4 linked regions of the Homo sapiens genome follow. The protein of the gene in region 1 purifies or fractionates together with the protein of each later gene. This does not show direct contact. Each region holds a gene or a part of one and is shown on either strand. Other genes may lie near its edges.

Region 1 (7,025 bases):
GGGAAGACCATTGACTAGTAAGGGTTATGTTCCTTACTTTATAATGCCAGTATGTGATAAGCTGTACTTTGCAGATGGAGTGGGCACTACTCAGTTCACTTTGTCTATTAATATTTGTAGGTGTTTTATTGATTCCTACACATTTTGACTACTAGAAGAATATGGGTTCAGCTTTTTTCAAAGTAGTTGTGATAAAATGGTTTATTTCTCTTCAAAGAATTTATGTAAATAAAACACAGTTTCTTTTATAAAAAGTGAGCACCGTGCTGATCTACTGTTCTGGAATTCTGGATGTCCAGGATTTTAGGCCTGCCAGTTTGTATTCATAAGGTACTTTTAATTTGCCACTGTATTGGCTAGTGTTGTATTTTAAAATAATTAGTAGAATTAAGAATGTGTATATGGGCTGGGCACAGTGGCTCACGCCTATAATCCCAGTACTTTGGGAGGCTGAGGTGGGTGGATCACCTGAGGTCAGAAGTTCAAGACCAGCCTGGCCAATGTGGTGAAACCCCGTCTCTACTAAAAATACAAAAATTCGCTGGGTGTGGTGGTGCGCACCTGCAGTCCCAGGTGCTGAGAGGGAGGGAGGCAGGAGAGGGAGGCTGAGGCAGGAGAATCGCTTGAACCCAGGAGGCGGAGGTTGCAGTGAGCTGAGATCACGCCACTGCACTCCAGCCTGGGCGACAGAGCAAGATTACGTTTCAAAAATATATATATATATTTATGTTCCATTTGTTAATATATTCCAATTGTATCACTGTTACAGGCTTTAGTCAACAATCCCAAAATTGAAGTAATAGATGGGAAGTATGCTTTCAAGCCCAAGTACAACGTGAGAGATAAGAAGGCCCTACTTAGGCTCTTAGATCAGCATGACCAGCGAGGATTAGGAGGAATTCTTTTAGAAGACATAGAAGAAGCACTGCCCAATTCCCAGAAAGCTGTCAAGGTAATCTCTCTTTTCTTTCTATGTCTTAATATAATTTGAATGAATAATGACTTCTTGGTTTTAAAAATATCAAACATTTTACAATTGTTTTTAAAGCTTCTATTATATACACATGGGTTACAGTGAGCCACTTGAAGGTTTGAAATTTGTCTTGTGCCACCTAGCAGGAAAGGGAGCAGCCATCTCTGTGTAACTTTGACGGGTTCTTGTTGCTGTTACTATATGATTGTTTGATTGTTCAGGCTATTTCTGGAAAATTTTCCTCAAAGGCAATAGAGTTTCTCTTGTAAGCTCTGTTTGTAAATAAGAGTGTCTTCTATAATACTAGTAGATGTTCCTTACCTGAGGAACTAGAGGCATTAAAACATGAAAGCATTGGTTAATAACCTGGCTGTTTTGAAGTCCTAAAGGGGCTATCTATGAAAGTCCTACTGATACAGATGACATTTCCAGTTTAAATTTGAAACTCACTGGGGAAAGCTGCTTGTTTCCATTTGTCACAGTTGCTCATTATTAATGTTAACTTGTTAAGCAGGTTCATTCATTTTGCTGCCTGTAGAAGAAAACTTGCCCCTTTGTCTCTTCTTCTTGGTAATGGAATTATACATGTCAGATCTTCTGGTATTGTACTACAAGTCCCTGAGGCTCTGTTTATTTATTTCAATTTTTTTTCTGTTCTATTAATCCATTGTCAAGTTCACTCACTTTTCTTCTTCACTTCCAACTTGTTAAGCCCAGTTGGTGAATTTTTTAATTGTATTTTTCAGTTCTAGTCTTTCTTTGTAAATTTTTCTTCTGGTTTCTGTTTCTTTGCTGAATTTTGTTTTCTTTTTTTTCCATTCGTGACAAGTATCTTTTGTTACACCCTTAAGTATGATTTCTTATAGCTGCTTTAAAATTCTTCTTATTCTAACAGCCGAGTCATCTCAGAGCTGGTCTGCATTGACTGTCTCTTTTATGGGTCATATTTTCCTGTTTCTTCATATATCTAATACATTTCTGTTGGGTCTTAGACCTTGTGGATTATATTAATATGTGTAAAGACTCAGGATTCTGTTACATTCCTCCCAAGAGTGTTTCTATTTGTTTTGTTTTGTGGTTAAGTGGGCAGTTACTCCAAACCTTGTCTGCCCTACAGCAGGTAGCATATGATATGTCTCTTCTGTTCTTCTAGCCTTAGCCCGTTTGCTTGGAATCTTGGAATCTTTTTCCAAGACTGGCTTATTTCACTTAGCATAATATTCTCAAGGTTCATCCATGTTGTACTTGCAACAGGATTTTCTTCCTTTTTAAAGCTGAATAATATTCCATTGTGTTTTTGTTGTTGAATTGTGGGAGTTTTAAAAAATATATTCTGGATATTAATTCCTTAACAGATACATGATTTGCAAATATTTTCTCCCATTCTGTAGGTTGCCATTTTACTCTGTTGATTGTGCTCTTTAATTTGCCAGTTTCTGAGTTTGCTGCACTCTTGTCTATTTTTGATTTTGTTGCCTGTGCCTTTAGTATCATGTTTAAATCACTGCCAAATCTAATGTCATGAAGCTTTTGTCCTATGTTTTCTTCTAGGAGTTTTATAGTTTTGGGTCTTAGGTATTTAGAGTTAATTTTTGTATATGGTGTAAGAGTCCAACTTTATTCCTTTTCATGTGGATATCCAGTTTTCTCAGTGTCTTGATGAAGAGACCGTCCTTTGCCCATTGAATAGTCTTAGTCTTGGTACTCATGTGGAAGATCATTTGACCATATATGTGAAGGTTTATTTCTGGGCCCTCTATTCTGCCTGTATGTCTTTCTTCATGCCAGCACTACAATGTTTTGATTAATGTAGCCTTTTTTTTTTTTTTTTTTTGAGACAGAGTCACACTGTCACCCATGCTGGAGTGCAGTGATGCAATCTTGGGTCACTGCAACCTCTGCCTCCCAGGTTCAAGCAGTAGTCCTGCCTCAGCCTCCTGATTAGCTGGGATTATAGGCACACACCACCACACCCAACTAATTTTTTTATTTTTGGTAGAGATGTGGTTTTACCATGTTGGCCAGTCTGGTCTCGAACTCCTGACCTCAAGTGATCTGCCCACCCTCGGCTTCCCAAAGTGGTGGCATTCCAGGTGTGAGCCACTGCACCTGGCCTGATTAATGTAGCTCTGTAATATATTTTGAAATCAGTAAGAGTGAGATCACCAATTTTGTTCTTTTTCAAGATTGTTTTGGCTATGTATTAGTCTATTCTTGCAATGCTATAAAGGAATGCTTGAGACTGGATAATTTATAAAGAAAAGAGATTGATTTGGCTCACAGTTCTGCAGGCTCTCCAGGAAGCATGATGCTGGTGTCTACTCAGCTTATGGGGAGGTCTCAGGAAACTTATAATCATGGCAGAAGGTGAAGGGGAAACAGGCTCATCTTACATGGCCGGAGCAGGAGCAAGAGAGAGTGGGGAAGGTGCCACACACTTTTAAATGACCAGATCTCATGAGAACTCATTATCAGGAGAACAGCACCAAGAGGGAAATCCACCTTCATACCAGTCACCGCCCACCAGGCCCCACCTCCAACATTGGGGATTACAGTTTGACATGAGATTTGATGGGGACACAGATCTAAACCATTTCAGGCTTTTTGAGGTCCCTTGAGATTTGATATAAATTTTTGGATGGATTTTTCCATTTCTGCAAAAAATGCCATTGGGATTTTGATAGGGATTACCTTGAATAGGTAACTTTGGGTAGTATTGCCATCGTAACTGTATTAAGTTTTTTAATACATGAGCACAGAATTCATTTATTCATGTCTTTAATTTTTTTTAGCAATGCCTTCAGGTTCTTTCATTTATTTTATGTATGTACAATTTGACTGTCCCTTATCTGTAATGCTTGGGACCAGAACTGTTTCAGATTTTGGGATTTTTTTCAAATTTTGGGATATTTTCATTATACCAGTTTAAACATTCCAGAGTTGAAAATCTGAAATCCAAAATGCTCCAGTGAGTATTTCTTTCTTTCTTTCTTTCTCTTTTTTTTTTTTTTTGAGGCGGAGTCTCTTTCTGTTGCCCTGGCTGGTGTGCAGTGGGGTGATCTCAGCTCACTGCAACCTCTGTCTCCTTGGTTTAAGAGATTCTCCTGTCTCAGCCTCCCAAGTAGCTGGGATTACAGACACCTGCCACCGTGTTCAGCTAATTTTTCTATTTTTAGTAGAGATGGGGTTTCACCATGTTGACCAGGCTGGTCTCAAAACTCCTGACCTCGGCCGAGTGCAGTGGCTCACGCCTGTAATCCCAGCACTTTGGGAGGCCGAGGCGGGTGGATCACGAGGTCAGGAGATTGAGACCGTCCTGGCTAACATGGTGAAACGCTGTCTCTACTAAAAAGTACAAAAAATTAGCCGGGCGTGGTGGCGGGCACCTGTAGTCCCAGCTACTCGGGAGGCTGAGGCAGGAGAATGGCGTGAGCCACCGTGCGGAGCTTGCAGTGAGCCAAGATCGCGTCACTGCACTCCAGCCTGGTTGACAGAGTGAGACTCCGTCTCAAAACAAACAAACTCCTGACCCCAAATGATCCTCCTGCCTCCCAAAGTGCTGGGATTATAGGTGTGAGCCATCACACCTGGCCCCCAGTAAGTATTTCTTTGGCATGTCATGTCAGCACTTAAAAAGTTTTGGATTTTGGATTCGAGATTTTGGGATTTGGGTTGCTCATCCTGTAGTTATCACCTTTTACCACCTTGATCTAGTGGACTATTATTTTTAAGCTACTTTAAGTCATTTTATGAATAATTTACATAAGTAAGAATAATGGGATGATGAAAACAGCTTTATTAGAGATTTTAGTAAGAATTTAACACAGCAAACTTCTGTATCAAGTAATTTTTGGAAAACACATCAAAAAGAAGAATACTGTCATATATCCTTTTAGCAAAGTGAGATGATAAAGATTCTTTTCACAAAATACTGTGTGATAATCTTCTGGTGAATAACGGGATGAGAATATTGTTTCCATTTTGTATTGAGAAGCATTTTGTTCGCTTGTTGATTCTTAAGCTTGAGAATCTTCACTTGAGTTATTGTCATCTAAAGACTCCATAGCTTGAGACTTTATTCCTATGATGAATTTTTGCCAGATAGTCTAGAGTGCTGCTATTTGGCTTTTTGCATTCATATTTTGATTCATCTAATAATTGTGAAATGTCTTTGGTCAGTTTTCTTGTCTTTGCTCTCAAGGGTAGAAAATACAAAATTTTTTTTGTCAGGTGTACTCAATGAAAGTTAAAAGACAACAAGAAGACTCTTCCAATCTTTTATATCTCTTGAAAAGGAGTAATGTAATCCTTTGGGCAATGCAGTAAGAAAACTGAAGGATGCCCATGTATTTCACTATTGCATCACATTTCTAGGTGATTTAATCATTCTTCTATTTTCTTATTATTTTAGCGTTTTAAAAGCACAATTGGAAATAATTGATGGGTAATGATGAGTAAGGAGCGAAATATCTCAAGGTAGAGGAAAAGTAAGAACACCAAGATTCTATTATGTGTCTTAGATTAGTGAAAGAGCCCCATGGACCCAAATAGTAATTGCAGCAAAGATTGAATTTTCCGTTTTAAGTGAAACACGTTTTATTTTTGTTCTTTGGAAGACCTCTAAGAATACAAGTCTGGAAATATCAATTTTTAAAAAATTGAACTACTCAAGAAAGAAACTCAAAAACTAAAATTGGGGCTGAGTGCAGTGGCTCACACCTATAGTCCCTGTACTTTCTGATGCTGAGGTGGGAAGATCGCTTGAGCCCAGGAGTTCAAGACCAGCCCTGGCAACATAGTGAGACCCTTTGTCTACAAAAAATTGAAAACATTAGCTAGACGTGGTGGCAATGCACCAGTGGTCCCAGTTACTCCAGAGGCTGAGGTGGGAGGATTGCTTGAGCCTGGGAGGTTGAGGCTGCAGTGAGCTGCACTCCAGTCTGGGTGGAGTCTCTTAAAAACAAAACTAAAACTAAAATTGGGTCCAGTGGACCTATGGTGGAGGACCCTATGGTGGTATACTGAGTGTGTTAAGGAAATGAAACTCCTTTATTGTTTAAATTTTTTTTTTTTTTGGTGAGGTAATTTGGAGTTAACTGAAAAATCTTTATTTTATCTATCTTTAAGGCTTTGGGGGACCAGATACTATTTGTAAATCGTCCCGATAAGAAGAAAATACTTTTCTTCAATGATAAGAGCTGTCAGTTTTCTGTGGATGAAGGTGAGCTTTTCTGTATTATACTTTAGTTTGCAAGTATATTACAATTTTAGGGTGGTAAAATTAATATTTATAATACAATTATAATTTAAATCTTATATTGCTTTTTTAGCATTATCATTTCTTAGAACACAGCCAGTGGCCCCTGTGTCTAACATATTGTTGCTTAGAATGCAATTTGAAATATGTGATTTGAAAGATTTTAGGTTAATTATACTTACAATCGCAGTTCAGGATTTCTTAATGTTTATAGCTCAACTGAACCAAACGGGTTTATTTCTTTATCTTTAGACTTTTACAAATGTAAGTTCATATCCTGATACAAAAGCTTGATACAGGATGGGAAAAAGAATAAACTTTTATTGGTGAATAGTGTTCTCTTATCTTATGAATCTTTCAGTTATCAAATTGAATAAGGAAGGAGATGATGTTTTTCTTTCTGGAAATTGTGGAGTTGGATGCTAAGCTGTATATTGAATCTCTTACTAAGTATATGATACGTATGTTTGGACTTTAGTTTTAAATTTTTGTCAATAATTTGTCATTAAACAAGGGTTTAGTGATGAAAAATGTATTATTCAAGTTTACCAATTGCCATTTTAGCAAGTGTTGGTGGTATTTTACTGTAAATTTGTATTACTTTTGAAGTTTTATAAAATGGCAGGAAAATAATTGGACATCAATTTAATTGATTTTGTGATTTGTGCAGTAACCTTAAGTTTTCCTTTTGTTATCTGTCTATAGATATCCAGGCTTGTGGTTCTGGTAGATAGGGCTTTAGTTTCCCTGAACTTGTTTTAGGAAATTGTATTTTTGTGAAAATCCCAATTGAGT
Region 2 (7,025 bases), on another chromosome or scaffold:
CTTATAAGGGTACTAATCCTATCCTGAGGGGACACATACTCATAACCTCATCTAACCCTAAATACCTCCCAAAGGCCCAACTTTCAAATACCAACACAAAGAGGGATAGGGCTTCAATGTATGAATTTTGGCAGGGGGTGGGGACACAGATAATCAGTTCCTAACACACAGAAAAGGAAGTAGAACCTGGATTATTAATGGCTGCTATCTGCCCATGACAGGCAGATTTCTAAGAAGACCCACGTCCCTCCCCTAAGTGAAGGCAGGACCCGTGAATATAATGAGATGTCACTCCCATGATTGCGTTATGGTACGTAAAGAAGGTGTAGGGATTTTGCAGACGCAATTAAGGACTCTGAGCAAATCAAAAGTGACATGATTCTCAGCGGGCCTGAACTAATCAGGTGAGTTCTTTAAAAGAAAGACTGGGGTCATCACCAAGGTCAGAGATTCTCTTACTGGCCTTGAAGAAGCAAGCTATCATGAGTTTTACAGCTGCAATGAAATGAATTTTTCCAACAATCATGTAAACTTGGAAAAGAAGCCTGAGCCTCAGCTGAGCCTTTAATCTTGACTGCAGTCTTGTGAGACCCTGAGCAGAGACCCACAAAAAGCCATGCCTGGACTCCTACCCCATGGAATCAGTGATATAATAAATACAGGAATACACAAGGTTTTAGGCGGCTAAGTCTGTGGTGCTTTATTACACGGCACAGAAAGCCAATATGCTGCCACAACAAGCTTACTTAAAAGACAAGACCTAAGAACAATTCAGATAGATGGCAAAAGGTGGGAAAAGCTAACTAAATAACCATAATTTTATGTTCCAAACTAATGCTGCTTAAGAGTACAGGATCACAAATTCTTGCCATCCATCCTTCATGCTCCTTAGCTCATGAGCTCCTCTGTGCTTGCTTTATAATTATTTTTTACGTTTAGCTTACCCAGGCCTTTCTACCAAGGACATAGAATAAGACAAAGCTGGTAGGCCGAGTGCCCTGGCTCACGCCTATAATCCCAGCACTTTGGGAGGCTGAGACAGGCGGATCACAAGGTCAAGAGTTCGAGACCAGCCTAGCCAAAATGGTGAAACCCTGTCTCTACTAATCATACAAAAATTAGCTGGACGTGGTGGCGGGCACCTGTAATCCCAGCTAATTGGGAGGCTGAGGCAGGAGAATTGCTAGAACCCGGGAGGCGGAGGTTGCAGTGAGCCAAGATTGCACCACTGCACTCTAGCCTGAGCAACGGAGCAAGACTCTATGTCTCGAAAAAAAAAAGAAAAAAAGAAGTTTAAAAAAAAAAAAAAGACAAAGCTGGCCATTTAAGTTAACAGCTACTATAGCCTAAGTATTTCTTCATGGTCAAGTTAACTGGGAATACTATGAAGGGACAGTAAAACATGAAGGCAAAGCTATGATGTGGTTACTTTCTCTATCTTTGTATTCAAAACATAAAATTTGGCAAGCTCACTGAAAAATACCGCCCAATTCTAATTACCTCATCAAACAACAAAATAATGGCTTCTTCTAAGACAGCTCCAATGATTCATTTCTTGTGAAATCCCTTCCCCTTAAGTGTGTGCTAGATTTATTAACTCACTTCCAATGAGCTCAATATAGTCAAGTGATAGGTGGTCCCTTAGAAGGTCACTTTTATAAAAAGCCTGTGGCTTTCATCGTGGGGACTCTCTCGGCTCACTCCCCCAGGGAAGGTGCTGCCAGGTACTGCAGCACTGCGGAGAGGCCCAATGGCAAGGAGCCAAGGCCTGCCAGTGACCCACCAGTAGGCTTGGAAACAAACTTCCCCTTCTTCTCCCAAGCTGAGCCTTCAGCTGAAGTCACAGCCATGGCTAACCATTTGCAACCTCCAGGGCGACTGGAACCCCGTTAAGCCACACCCAGATTCCTGACTCACAGAAACTCCGAGGTAATAAATATTTGTCATTTTAAACCAGGATGTTCTGAGGTAATCTGATATGTGGCAATGGATAACTAATACCACCACCAAATGTAAGGTAAAAACATTAGATGCTTTGAGGCAAGAGTAAAAAAAAAAAAATTCAAAAAGAAGACAAAAGGTCTCACCTTAAGCACTCTTCCTGAAAGGCCAACAATCTCACCATCCTTTGGCTCTACTTCTGTAGCAGTATTCACATCGCCACTTCCTGTTGTATCAATGATATCAACGATTTTTGGTTTTCCATCAGTTGTAACCTGAAAATTAAGAAAATTAAAATATGAATGGTAGATTTTAGGTTTTTATTCCTAAACAATGCAAATCCACATATATATGTGTGTGTATATACAAAATCTACATTCACTTAAAAAAGAGAACTGAACTGTTTTAAGCCAAAAGCCTGAACAAATACTAGTAAGAAAATTTAATCGTGGAAACACTACAGAATCCTTCAAGTCGTTTCATATATTCAATAAACAAATATTTACTGAGCATTTACTATAGACCACACCCTATTTTAGGTGCTGGGGATATGGCAGTGATCCATACGCAAAAATCCCTGACGATCTTATAGCGAGAAAGCAGTTCAGTTAATAACAAAGTAAAATAAAGAACATGTCAGATGTGCTATCACACTGGGTATTAGGGAAAAAAAAGAACATGTCAGATGGTGAAAATTAACTATGGAGAAAAATTAAGCAGGGAAGGGAGATGGTCAGTGTGGGGTTTTCAACATAAGTTTGGCTGGTCAAGGAAGGCCTTGCTGAGATGGTAACATTTGAGAAAAGATCTAAAGATGGTGAGCTGTGGGCTGGACAAGTTTAGAGCTTTAGGGGGAAAAAATGTTTAGTAGTAATGGTACCATTTAATGGCACCATTATTGGATGCCACACTAGCACCTCAAACGCAACAAAGTTCAAGCTTAACATGCCCCCCACCACCTGATTTTCTCCAGGCTTTGCCATCCCAGGAATCCCCACGCCCAGCTGTTCACACTGGAAACTTAACAATCCTCCTCTGATTCTTTACTTCAGTTGACTCCTCACAGCGAAGCTAACAGGAAATCCTGTTAATTCTTTGTCTAGAAGAGAGCTCAAATCCATTGCATTTTCACTACCACTATCCTAACTTTCCAAACCACCACCATCTCTTGCCTCCATGAGGTGAATTACCTAAGTGGTCCCTCAGTTTCCACTCTTGGCCCCATCAAAAGTAATACAGGCTGAGTGACCCTAACCTGAAAATTCCAAATGCTCCAAAATCATGGACATGAAGTTCAAAGGACATGTTCATTGGAGACTTTCGAATTTGCGATACTCAACCTGTATTAAAACAAGCTGTATTTTATCAGTCCTCTCCTTTAAGCCCATCAATGTATTCATGGAGCACTCAGAATACTCGCATAAAAAGCCTCGCACCATCTGACCCCTGCCACCCCGTTACTCAGGAGTCTAACCACGCCAACCTCCTTTCAATTCCTGAAACATGCCAAACTTTTTCCTGCCTCATGACTTTTTAAACAGGTTCCTTCTGCCTAGAATTCTTTATCTCTTCAGTTGTTCCACAGGATTCTATCTTCTCTCAGTTTTCTATTAAAGTCCCTCCTGCAGAAAGGCCTCCTCGATGACCTCCTTTAGGTAGCTGCCATCCTAAACTGGATTATTTTTTCTCACTGTACCTCATTTCCTTCACAGAACATAATTCTATTTCTAATGATACAAGTAGGTGATCTTCATCTGTTCCCCCTATTAGAATAGAAAGCTCCATGAAGGCAAGAGCCATGTCTACTTTATTCACGAACATACATATACCCACTACCTAGCAGTGCCTGTCAGGCATTCAATGAATACTTCATTACTGAATTACAAGACACAAGTTACTTAGCACTAAGACTGATTTTCAAAGGTTTGATTTCTTGCCAGTCCACAAATTTTCATTTGAGCCATAACATGATTGCTACAAGTAACAATATATATTTTTACACATTTTTGTGGGAAAATAATTTCTGGGCTCTTTCTTGGCTGGCTTTCCAAAGGGAATTTGTTGCATTCAGGAATATGTACTGAGTTACCAGCAGGAATCAGCCAGAAAACAGAGACACAACGACTGAAAAAAAAACAAAAAACGAAAAACAAAAAAACAAAAAAACAAAAAAACTCCATCCTCAAGAAAGAAACAGAAACATAAAAACCGTAGAAACTGTCAGTAAAGTGGAAGAGCACAGTCTTCAGACTCCAATTCCACCTGGAGAATTCACACTCTTTACGACAAAGCTTAATGTCCACTGCTCTGGGTCTTTCTGACCAACATGCCCCTCACCCCAACACAAGTATTTCCTCTGCAATAACCTCCAAGCTCTGTAATTAAGGTATACCCTGAAGAAGGAGAGGGAAATTCTCGATGTGGAGAAAACAAAAGCACACATTTTTTTTTCCTTTACCGGACAAAGCAAATGGGTGGTTGGTGGACCCCAAATCTCATTTCAATCTTGTTGCCATGGAACAACTGAGGGCCTGATAGCTGAAGGGGTCATAAAGGCCTCCCAGGCACAGCTGTTATTTTCATGTATGGTAATTCTCAAGTTGGATGTTTACTTCTTGGGAACTGTCCTATAATAGTAACAAATAAGAATTCTAATACTCAGAAAACTCAAAGTCATAATTAAAAAAAATCACTGTGGGAATCATACCAAACCCTGATACAACTATAAAACTTAAATCAGATACTGATTCTGAAGAGATAGGCTATATGTCTCAAAAATATAATTAAAAAAGAGAAAAATGTAAGAAAATCTACCAAAATAAAAATGGAAACAAAATTAAGTTGATACTACTTTATAAAATTAAAACTAGCTAGGTCATGTACTAATCATATAAGAAAATCACCTATTTTAAAATGTATTCCAATATGAAATTTGAAAGATATACAGTAGCACTAAGAACCCAAATCACCTATCTTCACCTCAATAAGCAAACCTGAGTGACTTGAGATCAAGAATAACAAGAGAGCACTAACAAGTCAGATAGATCTCTCATTAGAAACCTCATTATCAATATATTAGCAAAGGAAAAAAGCCTAATGGGATTTAATGGCTTATTTGTCACCTATTTCCACATGCTTTACTTACAAGGATCTCTCTCCTACACACACAAATTTTCATTACAAATTATTATACATGCAATTATCCTATCCATGAATTTCTTACTTTAATATTAGATAAAGAAAACCACTTCACTAGACATAAAAAGACAAAAACAGAAATGTAGGGTCAGAGGAGGGTTTTAAAAAGGCAAACCCCCTGAGGATTTGCCATGGTGTTTTGGGAGAAGTAAAGGAAAGGAGGAAGCTGAACTGCTAACAATGGAACTATATCACTCATCTCTGAGAAGGGGGAGGCTTCACATGGGAAAGAGGGACTGAAAGCATGGGCAGTTAGTATCGGTAAGAGCTTCGGTATTAAATCCTGGGTCCTGGGGTGGGAGACTGGGAAATGCTTACTGGGCTATGTTGGCTGGATGAAACAGAAATTGCCCAAAGCTTTTCCCAAAATGTCAAGAATCTAAGTTAGTGTATGTCTTCAATGTAACCAGTAAGGTAGAGGAGTTAGTGAAGGTTGGAAGATTTGCCAAACATTTGCAGAGAGGACCAGAACAAAAGGTAGGACATTTGCAGAGAGGACCAGAACAAATGGCGGGAAGTTTGCAATCTATCATAAACAACACAAAGTTAATGAGTTGACTTAAAATTTCAGGAAAGGTACTGAAAATATTCTTTTAAGCAAATAAAGATTTAATAAATATTAACCAGTGACTTTTATTCTAAGAATATAATGATTAATATAAATAAGACAATCTTTGCTTTTGTAAAGGTTACTATTGGTTGGAAAGAAAAAGTAAGTAGAGAGATGATGACAAAACAGGACAACAAATAATAGAGGTCAGGCCAGTCTGGGTAACACAGTGAGACCCTGTCTCTACAAAAAAATTAAAAAATTAGCTGGGTATGGTGGCACATGCTTATGGTCCCAGCTACTGCAGTGGCTGAGGCAGGAGGCTTGCTTAAACCCAGGAGTTTGAGGCTGAAATGAGTGGTGATCCTGCCACTGTGCCACTGTACTCCAGCCTGGGTGACAGAGTGAGACCCTGTCTTTGAGGGAAAAAAAAAAAAGAGGTTAGGACACTATCTATGAAAGCATACAAAAACATGTAAAAACACAAAACCCAACTTGGGGGGAATGAGGGAAAGCTAACTGAAAGAGAGGTAATAAAATTTTAGTGAATGTAAAAATAGAGTTTTATGAAACTACTCGTAACCTCCTCAAACCTTTTTTTTCCCTCTATGAGGAAATTATATTCCTTCATTATGCCCATATATATTTTTTCCATTCAACAAAAACATTTAACATTACAAGCACATGTCATACAATTTTGATACATGCTTTCAAAGATTTTTAAGTTAACCAGGAAAAAGTTATCTAAACAGAAACACTAAAATACATATTTCAGGTGCTATTAAGGGGATCTAAGCAAATTGCTATAACAGCAAAGAGACAAAAAGCCTAAATAACTCTTAGGAGGGATTGGGCCTTACTCACCTCTGAAGCTGCAGGCCCTAACACAATGGCAAACACACATAAATACGAGGTGGTGGGGGGAGGGGGCGCGCAGAATTAAATCAGTTGATTTTCCAAAACATAATGGTGTCAAGACCCGACTGGATCTTAAAGGATGAAGCAGGAGTTTACAGATGACGGATGGTAGAAGCCTGACGGAAGATGAAACGCCACATGTAAAGGCATGTATTGGCAAAAAGACCTGAAACATCTAGGTGAGTGTAAGAATGAAATGTTCAAGGGGAGGCAAAGGATGAAAGGTGGGGATGAAGGGGCTATGGACATAAGAAATGATGAGAACTGAGGCTACATAAGGAGGCCAGAGTTGGATGGCAAATGGCCTCATATATACCATTCAATTTTTTTTTTTAATTTTTACACAAAAGCAGTTGAGATTCCAAAATGGCTTTGTTTTAAATGAGGGTATAATACAAGGTTTTTTTTTTTTTTTAAG
Region 3 (7,229 bases), on another chromosome or scaffold:
GGCAGGGCAGAAGTACATGGACAGGCAGACAGATACACACACACCCAGGGCCTCAGAACAGTCTTCAGGGCAGGGACAAGGCCTTGGCAAGGCGAGTCCAGAACCAAGATTTGGTGCAGGGGTTGGTGTAGTCGCAGACAGTGATGAACCTCAGGATGCTGGGGAACTCTTTCTTCATTGCCTTGTACTTGATGGGGATCAGTCGCTTCTGATGGGCACCTGCAAGCCAAGGGGTGCCATGCTGGCATCAGGCCCTTGCCCCATGGTGGGACAAGCCCAGTCTTCAACCCCAGGGTTAACAACAGCCATCCCCCATCTAAGTACCCCTGGCACACATTCACTCACACAAAAAGGCACACACATGCACACATGCTCAGGTGTGCAGAGATCTTCAGCAGTTCTTTGGTACTGCATCCACAGTCCTTGGGGAGGGAAGGCTGACAATCCAGAGGCCCCACCTACACATTCCCTCATTCTCTTGCCAGAGCAGGGTTGAGCTTACCTGGAGAGAGGCTGAGTGCAAATTTGGTCTGGAAGTCACATTCCTTGCTCTGCAGGTAATCATCAGAGACAACCACCACCATCCGGCGGCACCTAGGGGAGAGTGGGCAGGCTGCAGGTCCTGTGGCAACTTAGTTCAGCATATCCCCTGGGAATAGCTTCAGGAAGGGCCCACTGTGCCCAGGCTGGACAGTGCACAGCTAGGAGGAGATGCCCAGTATCTGGACCCCAGGGCAGGGCTTCATGCATCCACGCACCCACCCCGTGGCCTTCTAGCCAACCTCTTTTCGATGAGCTCACTAGCAATAGACCAGACACAGGTGCCAGGCAGGACATCGCGGTCAGACACACACAACTTCAGTCGATAGTTTGTCTGTTCCAGTTGCCGGATCATCTCCTGCACAAACTGGATGTCGCTGGGGCAATAGCAGATGAAGGCATCGAAACGCTCAGGCATATGCCCTGGGTGCAGAGCACAAGGGTGGTGGTCAGAGCTCCATGGGAAGGCTTGGGAGGGATCCAGCCAAGAGTCCCCTGCCTAGGCAACCCTGGGCCCTGCACCCTTCCCAAGATGATACTCCTCAGAGAAAGTGCCCTTTCCAGGAGAGGAAAGATGAGTACCTCAGGGGCTAAGCTCTGGATTAACCACGAGACAGACATTATTTCATGAGCATCTCACAGCAATCCAGAGGTAGGACTATTATCTCCATTTCTTAGGTGAGGAAACTGAGGCTCAGAAAGATTAAGTGACTTGCCCAAGGTCTCACAGCCCATCTGCTTCAAACACCCATGCTCTTAACACCACAATGTCCTATTCCACCTGTCCCATGGGAACAGTATTGGACCCTTACCCAGGGGGTCATCAAGTGTGGTGATGCCCGCCAGCTCTGCTGTCCGTGGGACACTGCTGTCTACAGCGGCCACCTGTAAAGGCTTCTCAGCCTCCTCCTGCTGCTGCTTCAAGATATACTTTTGGCAATCCTCCTCTGTGGGGAAGAGACAGAGTAAAGCAGCCTCCCTGGGAGTGCCTACCTCTTTACCCACAGTCAGGATCCAGCCGCTGTCCCACCTCCTCTGGCTGGGTTGTTCTAGAGGGCTTCCCCAGTTCACTGGTGCCACGCGAAGCTCAACGGCTCTGAGAAGTTGAGCTCCCACTGGCTCTAACTGACCCAAAGGGATGTCAGTGGTGTTCTGGCTTTCTGGAAGGCCATCAAAGTCAGGTTTGTATCTCTGTCCCTTCCTAGGGATCCTAAGAATGGTACCAAGGTAGGTCTGCTTCTTCTGGGATCCAGGGCAGATGTGAGCAAGGGGCTGGGCATGCCAGAAAGGCTCAGGAGACCCACTGGTTATGGTGCAGTGATTCCAACTCAGCAAGGTGTGCCTGTCTGTGGGCGGCTGTATCCAACGCCTATGCATGTATATTATGTAAGTGCCAGTGAGTAGAAAGAAGGGCTGCATTTCCCCAGGACTTGAGGTTTCTAAGACAGTCCACTGTCAATCGCCCCACCTGTCCTGTTGCTCTACTTGAAACAGCCCAGATGCCCCCACAGAAGCCTGATTCTGACTCCTGGCCCTACCTGAAAGCCTCTGCCTAAGCTGCTTCCTTCCCATCTCCGCCTATCCGGACCTTTCTCCAGTCCTTCTTAATAACCGCGACCGGTTATTAAGAAGGAACGGGACCCGCATGGTTCTCCCTCTGCAGGCTTCTTCGGGCCCCCGAGGCAGGAAATGGGGTCTCTCCATGGGAGACAGGATGCTGAGGCCGCGGAAAGTCAGCCTCCTCACCCCCCAGGTACGAGGCCAGGAAGGGGACGTCCTCACCAATGCTGGGTCCCAGCTCCAGCAGCACGTCGTCGCGGCCCAGCTTGGTAAGCAGCTCGAGCAGTCGGCCTACAGAGGCGCCAGGGCGTCCCTGCCAGGCGTCCAGCAGCCTGCCAGTGGGGTCCGCTTGTGTCTCCAGTTGCCGGATCTCCAAGTACTCAAAGTCCATCTCCTCCGCCAGCGCGGTCCAGTCGGCCGCCACCTGTGTCCGCACGTTCAAGAACAGAGACAGGCGGCGCCGCACTCGCATGTTGAGAGCAGCCAGGGGAAGGGAGGATGTGGAGGAGACCGGGGCCGCAGACCCCGCGCCGGGACCTCCTGCAGCCATGGCGGGCGGTCCTGGAGCCTCAGCGCGGTCGGGTCGCATTGTCTGCCAGCGCTTCCTCTTTCTCCTGCGGCACCCGCCCCGCCCCGCCGGCTTTCGCTTTCCGAGAAGCGCCGCCCTGCCCTACAATCTGGAGCCCCGAGCAAAAGTGCGGAGGCGGGGGTGCCCACCTCTACCCTTGAGGTCTCGAGGCGGGTGATGTGGGGGGCGTAAGAAGTAGGAATCTGCCTTTTGAGATCTGGAGAGGTCCACGGCACCGCCCTCGAGGGTCTGGTGATGGTGCTAGTAGGTTGGCGGCGGAGTGAGGACGACCCTCCTTCGGGGGTTGTAGGAAACGGGCCTTGCTTTTTGGGATCTGGTGGAGCCACAGTTCTTCCACGGAGGAATCTGAGGGGTTCATACGGTCCTGCCCTCGAGGATGGCGAGGAGGGGACAAGTGGGAAGGCACCAGCTCTGCCCTCCACTGTCTCTGGGGAACACGCAATCCTGCCAGTAGGGGTATGGGAAGACCCCTGCTGTGCTCCCCGAGGTGGGAGTGGGAAACGGACAGCTGCCTTCTGGAGCCTGAGGCATGCCGTGGCCCTGCCCTCGAAATGGTTGGGGACGTCATGACACTAGGTTGGGGAGCACAAGGCACCCTGTCCTTTGGTGTCTGTGGAAAGCCCAGCACTACTCTCCAGGGTCTCAGGTGAAGACATGGCCCTGCTATTGGGAGTCAAGGGGGCACGTGGCCTTGCCCTTTAGGTTTAGGGACACAGTCCTGACCTGGGGAGCCCTGGTTCATTCATTTACTCATTCGACAAGTACTTATTGATCATCTACTAAGTGTCAAGGGTGTCGCAGGCTCCCCGGATACATGGTACCTCTCTGCCTTGGTGGAGACCCCAGCCTAGCACGGGAAATGGGCACTAATAAAATCATTCCAATTGGGTGTAAAACTGGTAAAAGTGTGAAATGTTCATTCTCCAGTTAGAGAGCTTGTCACACCCCGCATGTCTGTAAAATCTGTTCTCCCGGCCAGCCCGGAAGCCCAAATTCCCTGTCTTCTCGAAAGAATGGGAAAGCCCAACCACGTCGGAGCAGGACTCGGGCGTCTCGGAAGTATTTAGGTCCCCCAGCTCGGGTACTGGGACCGGAGGGATAGCAGAGCCTCCTAGGAAGTGGGTAGAGGAATTAGAGCCTCGGCTTCCATCTCCAGCCCCCAAGCAGTAAGCGGTCCTGGCTGCCCAGCCTTCCGTTTGGCTGCGGGCAGGAGACAGGGATTTGGGGGTCAGGTCTCGGGTTTGGCTACAAAAGGTGGAAAGACTTCCGGTCTGCATTTCTGGGCGGGGATTCGTAAAGATACACCTTCTGGTTGGCTGCGGTAGGCCAAGGTAGGCGGGGCATTGAGTGGAAAGCTCGGCTGGGCGGTGCCTGTGGGCCCTCCTATAGAGGGCTTGGTAGGCGGTGGCGGGGAGGGGCGGGTTCCCAGGCCGACTCTCCTTGTGGTTGGCTGAGGCTGGAGGTGGACGGGACTTTTGGAGGGTCGCTCGCGTCTGTTCGCAGAGCTGTGGGCGGAGTTGAGGCCTTGGAGGCTGAGATGTGGTTCTGCGCGTGTGCGGACGGCTGTCTGTTAACTCCGCGGTCAGTTCCCGGACTGGTGGCTGGTCTGCAGGGTTGACCTGCGCAATGCAGAGGCTGCAGGTAGTGCTGGGCCACCTGAGGGGTCCGGCCGATTCCGGCTGGATGCCGCAGGCCGCGCCTTGCCTGAGCGGTGCCCCGCAGGCCTCGGCCGCGGACGTGGTGGTGGTGCACGGGCGGCGCACGGCCATCTGCCGGGCGGGCCGCGGCGGCTTCAAGGTGAGGCCCGAGGGTCTGGGCGCCGAGTGTGGGAAGACGCCGGCGCGGGCTGGGGTCCGGTTCGTATGTTTGGTTATCCTGGACGCCGGAGGCAGCTCCGCACCCAGCTGTGGTCGCTTTGTCTCCCTGGGGTGGGCATGGGGGAGTGGGGGTCACTGCGGCTGCTCTTTCTGCTGCAGGACACCACCCCCGACGAGCTTCTCTCGGCAGTCATGACCGCGGTTCTCAAGGACGTGAATCTGAGGCCGGAACAGCTGGGGGACATCTGTGTCGGTGAGCGAACCACTCAGGCCCTGCGCTGGGCCTTCCCCGTTCTTCCGTTCGTCCAGAGCTCTCCTCACCTCCCCGCCCCGAATTTTCACTGGGGGAACCTCCATGGCCTTGACCTTTGAAGGGGTCCTGCCCCTTCACACCTGTGGGTATTTCTCGTCAGATGGGAGGAGAGACTGAGAAAAGAAATAAGACGCAGAGACAAAGTGTAGAGTGGGCCCAGGTGACCGGCATCGGTCTCCGAGTTCCCTCAGTATTTATTGATTACTATTTTCACTATCTCGGCAAGGGGAGTGCGGCAGTGTGGGGGAAAGGAAGAGAGATCAGACTGTTACTGTGTCTGTGTAGAAAAGGAAGACAGAAGAAACTCCATTTTGATCTGTACTAAGAAAAATTTTTCTGCCTTGAGATGCTGTTAATCTGTAGCCTTAGCCCCAACCCTGTGCTCACAGAAACATGTGCTGTATTGAATCAAGGTTTGAGGGATTTAGGGCTGTGCAGGATGTGGCTTGTTAACCATTTGTTTGCAGGCAGTATGCTTGGTAAAAGTCATCGCCATTCTCCATTCTCGATTAACCAGGTACACAGTGCACTGCGAAAGGCCGCAGGGACCTCTGCCCAAGAAAGCCTGGGTATTGTCCAGGTTTCCCCCCACTGAGATTGTCTGAGATATGGCCTAGTGGGAAGGGAAAGACCTTACAGTCCCCCAGCCCGACACCCGTAAAGGGTCTGTGCTGAGGAGTATTAGTAAAAGAGGAAGGCCTCTTTGCAGACACCCGTAAAGGGTCGGTGCTGAGGAGTATTAGTAAAAGAGGAAGGCCTCTTTGCAGTTGAGATAAGAGGAAAGCATCTGTCTCCTGCTTGTCCCTGGGAATGGAATGTCTTGGGTGTAAAACCCAACCATACATTCTATTTACTGAGATAGGAGAAAACCGCCTTATGGCTGCAGGTGAGACATGCTGGCGGCAATACTGCTCTTTACTGCACTGAGATGTTTGTGTAAAGTCAAACATAAATCTGGCCTATGTGCACATCCAGGCACAGCACCTTTCCTTAAACTTACTTATGACACTGAGTCCTTTGCTCACATTTTTTCCTGTTGACCCCCTCCCCACCATTACCTTATAGTAATGGTATATAATGCCACATCCCTCTTGCCAAGATAGTAGAGATAGTGATCAATAAATACTGAGGGAACTCAGAGACCAGTGCTGGTGTAGGTCCTCAATTGCTGAGCACCAGTCCCCTGGGCCCACTTTTCTTCCTCTATACTTTGTCTCTGTGTCATTTCTTTTCTCAGTTTCTCGTCTCCACCTTGCGAGAAATACCCACAGGTGTGGAGGGGCAGGCCCTCTTCAGGCAAAACGGGGTGAACAGGGTGATGGTGGGGAGAAGGTCAGCAGGAAAACATGTGAGTAAAGGAATCTGCATCATAAATAAGTTCAAGGGAAGGTACTGTGCTGAGATGTGCATGTAGGCTAGATTTTTGTTTCTCTTTACCCAGACATCTCAGTGTAGCAAAGAGTAACAGAGCAGTATTGCTGCCAGCATATTTCGCTTCCAGCCACAGGGCGGTTTTCTCCTATCTCAGTAAATAGAACCAATAGTCGGCTTTACACCGAGACATTCCGTTCCCAGGGATGTGCGGGAAATAGAGGCCTTCCTCTTTTACTAATCCTCCTCAGCACAGACCCTTTACAGGTGTCGGGCTGGGGGACAGTAAGGTCTTTCCCTTCCCACGAGGCCATATCTCAGGCTGTCTCAGTGGGGGGAAACCTTGGACAAATACCCAGGCTTTCTTGGGCAGAGGTCCCTGCGGCTTTCCACAGTGCATCATGTCCCTGGTTAATAGAGAATGGAGAATGACGATGACTTTTACCAAGCATACTGTCTGCAAACATATGTTGACAAGGCACATCCTGCACAGCCCTAAATCCCTTAAACCTTGATTCAATATAGCACATGTTTTTGTGAGCACAGAGTTGGGGCTAAAGTTACAGATTAACAGCATCTCAAAGCAGAAACAATTTTTCTTTGTACAGATCAACATGGAGTTTCTTATGTCTTCCTTTTCTACATACACACGGTAACAATCTGATCTTTCTTTTCCCCACAATCTTCAGTCCAGCCCTCTATTCCACCCCTCACCTTGAAATACAGCAATATGATATGGCAAGAGTCTTATCCAGCGGATGCCACCCCTAGGTCGGCAATCACTGTTCCACCTCTCTGGGGTGACAGCAGGGCTCACAGGAGGATACCTGGGGAGATGTGCATTTTCAGAAACTCCCATTTCACTTTTAAGGGCAGACAACCTGCCCATCTGTGCTGATTTGGAAAAGCTGGGTGCATGGGCAAGTGAGCGTGGGACCCTCAGGGACAGGAGCTGGTGGATGACCAGGACAAGCTGTTGTATGGCTGGCTCTCCCTGCCCCAAACCCTGATGTTCCAGAGTTGCAAGTGAGCCTGCCAA
Region 4 (7,025 bases), on another chromosome or scaffold:
TTTGTTTCTTTTGGATCTGAAGAACCTAGCTCTGCTGTACCCTGGTTCTTGTTGATTAAAGAGTGATAACTGAACAAAGTTAAAGTTCACTTTTGGATGTTTACTACCAGATGAAGAGTGAAAATAGTCGTTTTAGTTTGTGCCTTGACTTCTTGATGAAGAGATTTGTTGTCAGACATTTTTTTCTGAAATTCCAAGTGATTAGAATGGCTAGTAAATACGAAAGTCTGTCTTGCCATAATATGTTAAATTTTTGTAGCAGATACTTGTGATTTGTGCATGCATCCGGTATTTTGTCAAGTTGAAGCAAGCCTTTATGTTAGGACTAATTCCTGATAATATGAATGGAAAACATACTAAAGCCAGCTTCTTGTTTTAGATCTTCTGAAGTATATCAGTGGCTTTAATGACAAATCAGGCCCATTTTCTCCTTTCCTATCATTATGCTGTATGTATAGATAGAATATGTATTTTAGATGTTTTATTGTTTAGTTATTATTTTAGTCTTATCCTTCTAAAGTTCAGCAAAGCTTTAGGTAAATGGCGTGGATTTTTGAAATCCTGCATTCAGTCGCTAGCTGACATTTAGAATACAGGAATAGTAGTTTCCTGGAAAACAGTGACACTTATGTTAAATTCTTGTGGTTTTTACAAAGTGAGGTGTCAACACAGAAGTATTTCAGTTCTATTTCCATTTACCTTTCCCTTTTGAAGAGGTATAATACCAAGGGTTGTGAAGTTCTGACTTGTAGCATCAACTTTCTGCATGGTTTTCCTTGGTATGGGGTGGGGTGGGTATTCCTCTTTGCTGAAATAGAAGAGAATCATAAATTTCTATCTGGATTGATTTTGTGCTTTAAGTTGTACACATAAAACTTGAACTAGGCATTTGTCAAATTCAGCTGGGCCTTTCAGCCTTGCCTTGTGGAATGAGAAATATCTTCCTTTTAAAGGTAATTTCTGGTAACCTTTTAGAAATTTTTGAGAGTAGACCTGGTGAGTTCCCTTTGAGCTTAACTGGCTGACCCCAGATATGTCCTTCTCAAGATAGACATACGGTATCTTTTGAGTTTGCAAGGGAAGAGGCTGAGAGGAACCTTCTTACCTTATATTCAGGCATATGCCCTGGCCCCATACCTGACCTTTTGAATTGGAATCTCCAGTAGGGATCAGATGTTTATTACAAGTTCTAGAAACTAGAAAGTTACCCTGTTATGTGGCTGCTGGAGTCAAACCTGTACATAAATATTACAGTACTTCATGCTCTTGCTCATTGCTTTACTTGAAGCAGGTTTTTTTCTGTTTCACATTTTCCTTTGTGACCTGTTAAACTACTAGATATGGCTTTCAAATGAAGAATTTTTAAACTCCTTAGACTTAGTTAGGCTAGGCCAGGCGTGGTGGCTCACACCTGTAATCTCAGCACTTTGGGAGGCTGAGGCGGGTGGATCACTTGAGGTGAGGAGTTAAGAGACCAGCCTGGGTAACATAATGAAACCCCTGTCTCTACTAAAAATACAAAAATAAGCTGCGGGTGGTGGCGCAAGCCTGTAGTCAGTCCCAGCTACTCCAGAGGCTGAGGCATGAGAATAGCTTGAACCCAGGGAGGCGGAGGTTGCAATGAGCCTAATGAGCCTAGATCGCGCCACTGCACTCTAGCCTGGGCGACAGAGCGATACCCTGTCTCAAAAAAAGAAAAAAAAAAGAGGCTAGATTTCTACAACATGTAAAAGATTAATACAATGCTCTAGACTTTTGATTGTGTTGATTACATATTTGCATAGCTTTTTGTGGTAAAACCATCTCACTATTCTTTAGCAACTTGAGTAGTTGACTAGACGATGAATAGTTTGTCCTTTAGAAAATCACACAGATTTTTGAAATATGTTTTACTTTTTGGCGATGAATATTAAGGTCATTAGTTGTATTTTGGTCTTGGAAGATACTAATTTAAGATGAGCATCATTTGGAAAAGTAGTCGTAGGTAATCTTAATACTGAACAGTGGCAAATTTCTTCTCTCTCCGAATTAAAACATGACCTTTGAAAAAAAATAAAAAGCAAAAAATGACCTTTGAATATAGTTGTCTAGACATTTGGTCATATATGCTTGTGACTTGTTAATAACCTCACCAGTTTGGAAGAAATGACAGTGAAAGATGAGTGACCTGTTTTTATTTTGGGATATACTCTTAATATGTCAGGCATTTTTAGGGTGTTTTTAAATTTTATTTTATTTTATTTATTTAAATTTTACAAGTTTTTGAGAACTGTTGTGATGTCAGAGGAAAAAACACTTTCCCTTAATATTTTGTTAATATTTTGAGCTCCAGTGGAATTAGTCCTTATAGCAAGAACTCATACTTCATTTGTTTTGTGATGTTGGATGCTATTTTGTGCAAAATAAAATATATTGAAAGAATAATTGCAGTAATTTCCATGAGTACCCTTGAATTGCTATCTTAAGTTGTCCAAGAATTGTTATTGTGCGAACTTGTGCCTTTTCATCACAAATTTGGTGAGAACCTGGGGAAATAGACTTGTGTTACGGAGTTTTCTGGACTGGTTTAATTATAAAGTGATCAAAGCAATTAGCTGTGAAGCTGAGCTTTATGACTGTTTTAATTTTCAGTGGATTCGTTATTGGGCTAAGTTAATGACACTCTTGTAAATATATAATTATTTTGAGATACTCAAATTTGAAAGCAATACCAACTAAAAAGCATGTGTGGGATTTTGTTACGGTGTCTTTCTTTTTTTTTTTTTTTTTGATATGCATTCTAATGAAGTACTCTGGTGGTTTCAGACTCGCCTTCGTAATGTACAGTGTGGCCTGTGCGTGTTGTTTTGTGTTTCCTGCATTGATTTTTGCCTCCGTTTATTCTCTATTGCAGTCTAAAAGTTGGTTTTAATTGGTTGCCCACAGGATTGACTTGGCCTCTACTTCTTGTTAAGGAAATTCATCTCTTGTTTTATCAGGTAAGAGATTTTGAATAGAGAGTTCGTTTTTATACAAAATAAAATGAGATAGCTTATTAAGAAATATGAAAATATATGTAGCAACTATATTGTGTGTGTGTGTGTGTGTGTGTGTGTGTGTGTGTGTTTTTGTTTGCTTGTTTTTTGTTTTGAGACGGAGTCTTGCTCAGTTGCCCAGGCTAGACTCTGTTGCCCAGGCTGGAGTGCAGTGGTGCCATCTCGGCTCACTGCAACCTCCGCCTCCCGGGTTCAAGCACTTCTCTGCCTCAGCCTCCCGAATAGCTGGGATTACAGGCGCCTGCCACCATACCCGGCTAATTTTTTTGTATTTTTAGTAGAGATGGGGTTTTATCCTCTTGGCCAGGCTGGTCTTGAACTCCTGACCTTGTGATCCACCTGCCTTAGCCTCCCAAAGTGCTGGGATTACAGGCATGAGCCGCCACCCAGGCCGGTGTGGTTTTTTACAAGTTTATCTGAGGGATAGGGGTGGGGTAGATGGGTGCTTTGAACAGTTGTTCCTTTGGGGGTCAATTTCATTTATATGGATCTATTTATCTTGTGATTTTCCTGATAGGCAGTAAGTTTTATTCCTTAGTAGCATTTTAGACTAATTACAAATACAGATGCTTGTTATTGATATGTTTATTTATATTTCCTAAGAGTTTAAGTATAGATAATGGGTCACATGTTTTAGAGTACAAATTTTAGACTTTAAATGGAACCTTAGCAAGTGGAATCTAACCCTCTTGTTTAAGTAACTAAGATAGGCCCAAGTTAGGTTGAAATGACTTAGCTGTCAAACAGTTACTTAGTAACAGAAAAGCAGATACTTTTTTAAATTTTTTTTTAAATTTTTATTTGTTTTATTTATTTATTTCTTTTTGAGACAGAGTTTCGCTCTTGTTGCCCAGGCTGGAGTGCAGTGGCGTGATCTCTGCCTCCCGGGTTCAAGTGATTCTTCTGCCTCAGCCTCCCTAGTAGCTGGGATTACAGGCACCTGCCACCATGCCCAGCTAATTTTTTGTGTTTTTAGTAGAGACGGGGTTTCACCTTGTTGGCCAGGCTGGTCTTGAACTCCTGACCTCGGGTGATCCACCCACCTCATCCTCCCAAAGTGCTGGGGTTACAGGTGTGAGCCACCGCACCTGGCTGCGGATATTATTTCATATTTTTTGGAAGCTAGAAACAATTTTTCTCATCAGATGGCTTTATGAATAAATCTTGTATTCCACTTTGGTTTAATATTCAGCCCTTTCCAGCTGGTAATCTGAGGCAGATTTTCAATAGCATATTCTCATGTGTACCTTGTACAAACTTTCAGTAAATCCCTGCTCTTAACAGAAAATGGCTTGAAGACTTAACTGTGTATGTCACTTTAGCCCTGTGTTTAATTTTTGTGTTCTTGGGACTATATCAAGTTTCTGTTTGATTGTCCCAGTGCAAACTAGTCTCTCTCTCTCTCTCAAGTTGTTTTGAGTACCTGGATTGCCCATGATGTTTCCCCTATACAAAGTGATTAACCGTTTTTTGAAGTTGAACAGGAAATGCTATCACATTTTGCATACAGCCACATATTCTAGATTGAGCAAGGAATGTGAATTTGATTTAATGACTTGGAAACTGCTTGATGAACCTCCTTATAGGCTGCTAAATAGTAAATGAGAAAAGAGACTGTTGGTGTGATGTTTTTTAGCGTTAATTTTTCTTGTTGACTCTTGAAGTTTGTAAATGAAAAGCTTCCCCACACTTCCCAAATTTCTAGTGCTTTATAATGGCCTCACAAAAAGCATTTTCTGTTTGCTAGTCCATTTTTCTGGATTAAATTTGAAGGTGGCTTTTTATTTTTGTGTATGTGTCTGTGAGAAAACTGTCAAAGCCAAGCAGTTTGTTTCTTGTTTGTATACGGCAGTTGTAATATTGAGATATAATTACAGATTTTGTTGCATTAGTATTTATATAATATTTGACAATGAAGTTACAGAATTCTTAGAGCTTATAGTAGAAAATCTTGCCCCTTCTAATATTCTTGAGAAGTGATAAAACCAAATCTCTTCATTAATTTATAACCTTTCTGAGGGTCATGAGCTGATTTTATGGGCTTATATTTAAAAGTTGACTTTTCAGGTGGGGCGCAGTGGCTCACGCCTGTAATCCCAGCACTTTGGAAGACTGAGGAGGGTGGATCACCTGAGGTCAGGTGAAATCCCATCTCTCCTAAATACAAACACTTAGCCAGGCATGGTGGCGCATGCCTGTAATCCCAGCTACTTGGGAGGCTGAGGCAGGAGAATTACTTGAACCTGGGAGGTGGAGGTTGCCGTGAACCGAGATCGTGCCGTTGCACTGCAGCCTGGGCTACAAGAGTGAAACTCTGTCTCAAAATAAATAAATAAATAAAAGTTGACTTTTCAGATGGGTTGGAAAACACCCTATGTTATTGACCACCTTAATTTCAAAGTAGTATGTTTCCCAGGCCCAATAATTCGGTTTGTGTCACTTTCCAAAGGGCTGCCCTTGAATTTGCTCTTAGAAGCCTTTGGAACTGAAATACTGAAATTTGAGGGGAACATTTCTTTTTTGATTATGTCAAAACAGGCATGATCTAAGGAGATCACAGAGATCCTGTAGGAGTTGTGTAGGTCCAAGACTGTAACAACCACTGAGTAATTCACACTCTGGTTCTAAAACAAAAACAAAAAATATTTTTATTGTCAGCCCTCTCCTAGGGGAAAATAATACTTTAAAAAATTTTATTAAATAGAGGATTTGGTTATGAGTCATTGGACCTGAGTTTTAATTAAAATAGTCACAGTGAATGGGACTATAACCAGGTTCTACTTTTGGGGGTAATGAATCAAGGTAACTCAGATTTTAGCTGTCCTATTCAGTAGTTCTTTTGGCTTCTTAGTATGTCTTAACCTTGTTTATAATAAATAATTCCATATGTAGTTTTTTGTAATGTACAAGGCAGATTGAAAAGTTTTAGGATGAATAAAATAATGGAACCAGTTCTCATTTAAGACTTGAATCTACTTTTAGTCTTAAGTATTATTTACAATTCATTAGTATTCTAGTTTTTTGCTTCTGTTGGATGGATTTTGAGACTGAGCTCTATAAAATCACACTCTTGATAATTCTATGAAATTATCAAGTATATAGGGAAGATGCTAAGCCAGTTTTAAATACTAACTTCTATATATTCTTTGCATGTTTTTTCCCTATAGATTGTTAAACTTTGTTTCCTGATTTGACTTAGACATTTCTTTTAAATCTTACTGAATGATTAGTGGTCTGAATGATGTATATGTATTTTACTGTCCTACAGTTGTTTTTTCTTGAACTTTTTGAGTCTTGGGACTGAACTGTTTCCAAAATTAATGCCTTCTGGAAGTTGAAATTGTCTACGTTTTACATTGTAAATGGCACGTAATGTTCAGTTTTTAGAATATCTAAATTAAAGACATTGCCTGTGATAGCTTGAGGGAATATTTGAGGGCCTAATATGGTAGCTGGTCATTCTTGTAGCTAAAAACTTGGTGTGATAAACAGGAGTCTGACCTGGCCGTTGCCTTTTCTCATCTGCAGGTGTGTGTGGTTTCAGCGCAGCATGGCTGTGGTCATCCGTTTGCAAGGTCTCCCAATTGTGGCGGGGACCATGGACATTCGCCACTTCTTCTCTGGATTGACCATTCCTGATGGGGGCGTGCATATTGTAGGGGGTGAACTGGGTGAGGCTTTCATCGTTTTTGCCACTGATGAAGATGCAAGGCTTGGTATGATGCGCACAGGTGGTACAATTAAAGGGTCAAAAGTAACACTATTGTTGAGTAGTAAGACGGAAATGCAGAATATGATTGAACTGAGTCGTAGGCGTTTTGAAACTGCCAACTTAGATATACCACCAGCAAATGCCAGTAGATCAGGACCACCACCTAGCTCAGGAATGAGTAGCAGGGTAAACTTGCCCACAACAGTATCCAACTTTAATAATCCATCACCCAGTGTAGTTACTGCCACCACTTCTGTTCATGAAAGCAACAAAAACAT

What was found.
Region 2: the proteins of GTF2E2 (region 1) and TPP2 purify together in Homo sapiens (affinity purification with mass spectrometry; 2 studies listed by BioGRID and IntAct, with this or other methods). This does not show direct contact.
Region 3: the proteins of GTF2E2 (region 1) and ACAA1 purify together in Homo sapiens (affinity purification with mass spectrometry; 2 studies listed by BioGRID and IntAct, with this or other methods). This does not show direct contact.
Region 4: the proteins of GTF2E2 (region 1) and RBM12 purify together in Homo sapiens (affinity purification with mass spectrometry; 2 studies listed by BioGRID and IntAct, with this or other methods). This does not show direct contact.

What each region holds. Positions count from the first base shown.
Region 1 is NC_000008.11:30,606,226-30,613,250, reverse strand, and holds part of GTF2E2 (transcription initiation factor IIE subunit beta), read left to right. Parts: intron 1-769; coding exon 770-952; intron 953-6,100; coding exon 6,101-6,194; intron 6,195-7,025. UniProt on the Homo sapiens protein: Recruits TFIIH to the initiation complex and stimulates the RNA polymerase II C-terminal domain kinase and DNA-dependent ATPase activities of TFIIH. Both TFIIH and TFIIE are required for promoter clearance by RNA polymerase.
Region 2 is NC_000013.11:102,599,984-102,607,008, reverse strand, and holds part of TPP2 (tripeptidyl-peptidase 2), read right to left. Parts: intron 2,217-7,025; coding exon 2,088-2,216; intron 1-2,087. UniProt on the Homo sapiens protein: Cytosolic tripeptidyl-peptidase that releases N-terminal tripeptides from polypeptides and is a component of the proteolytic cascade acting downstream of the 26S proteasome in the ubiquitin-proteasome pathway.
Region 3 is NC_000003.12:38,134,122-38,141,350, reverse strand, and holds the start of ACAA1 (3-ketoacyl-CoA thiolase, peroxisomal), read left to right. Parts: upstream 1-4,223; 5' UTR 4,224-4,315; coding exon 4,316-4,486; intron 4,487-4,665; coding exon 4,666-4,759; intron 4,760-7,229. Other genes in the region: myeloid differentiation primary response protein MyD88, read right to left, coding at 65-219, 503-594, 759-963, 1,353-1,487, 2,323-2,650. UniProt on the Homo sapiens protein: Responsible for the thiolytic cleavage of straight chain 3-keto fatty acyl-CoAs (3-oxoacyl-CoAs). Plays an important role in fatty acid peroxisomal beta-oxidation. Catalyzes the cleavage of short, medium, long, and very long straight chain 3-oxoacyl-CoAs.
Region 4 is NC_000020.11:35,654,883-35,661,907, reverse strand, and holds part of RBM12 (RNA-binding protein 12), read left to right. Parts: intron 1-2,893; 5' UTR 2,894-2,978; intron 2,979-6,563; 5' UTR 6,564-6,585; coding exon 6,586-7,025.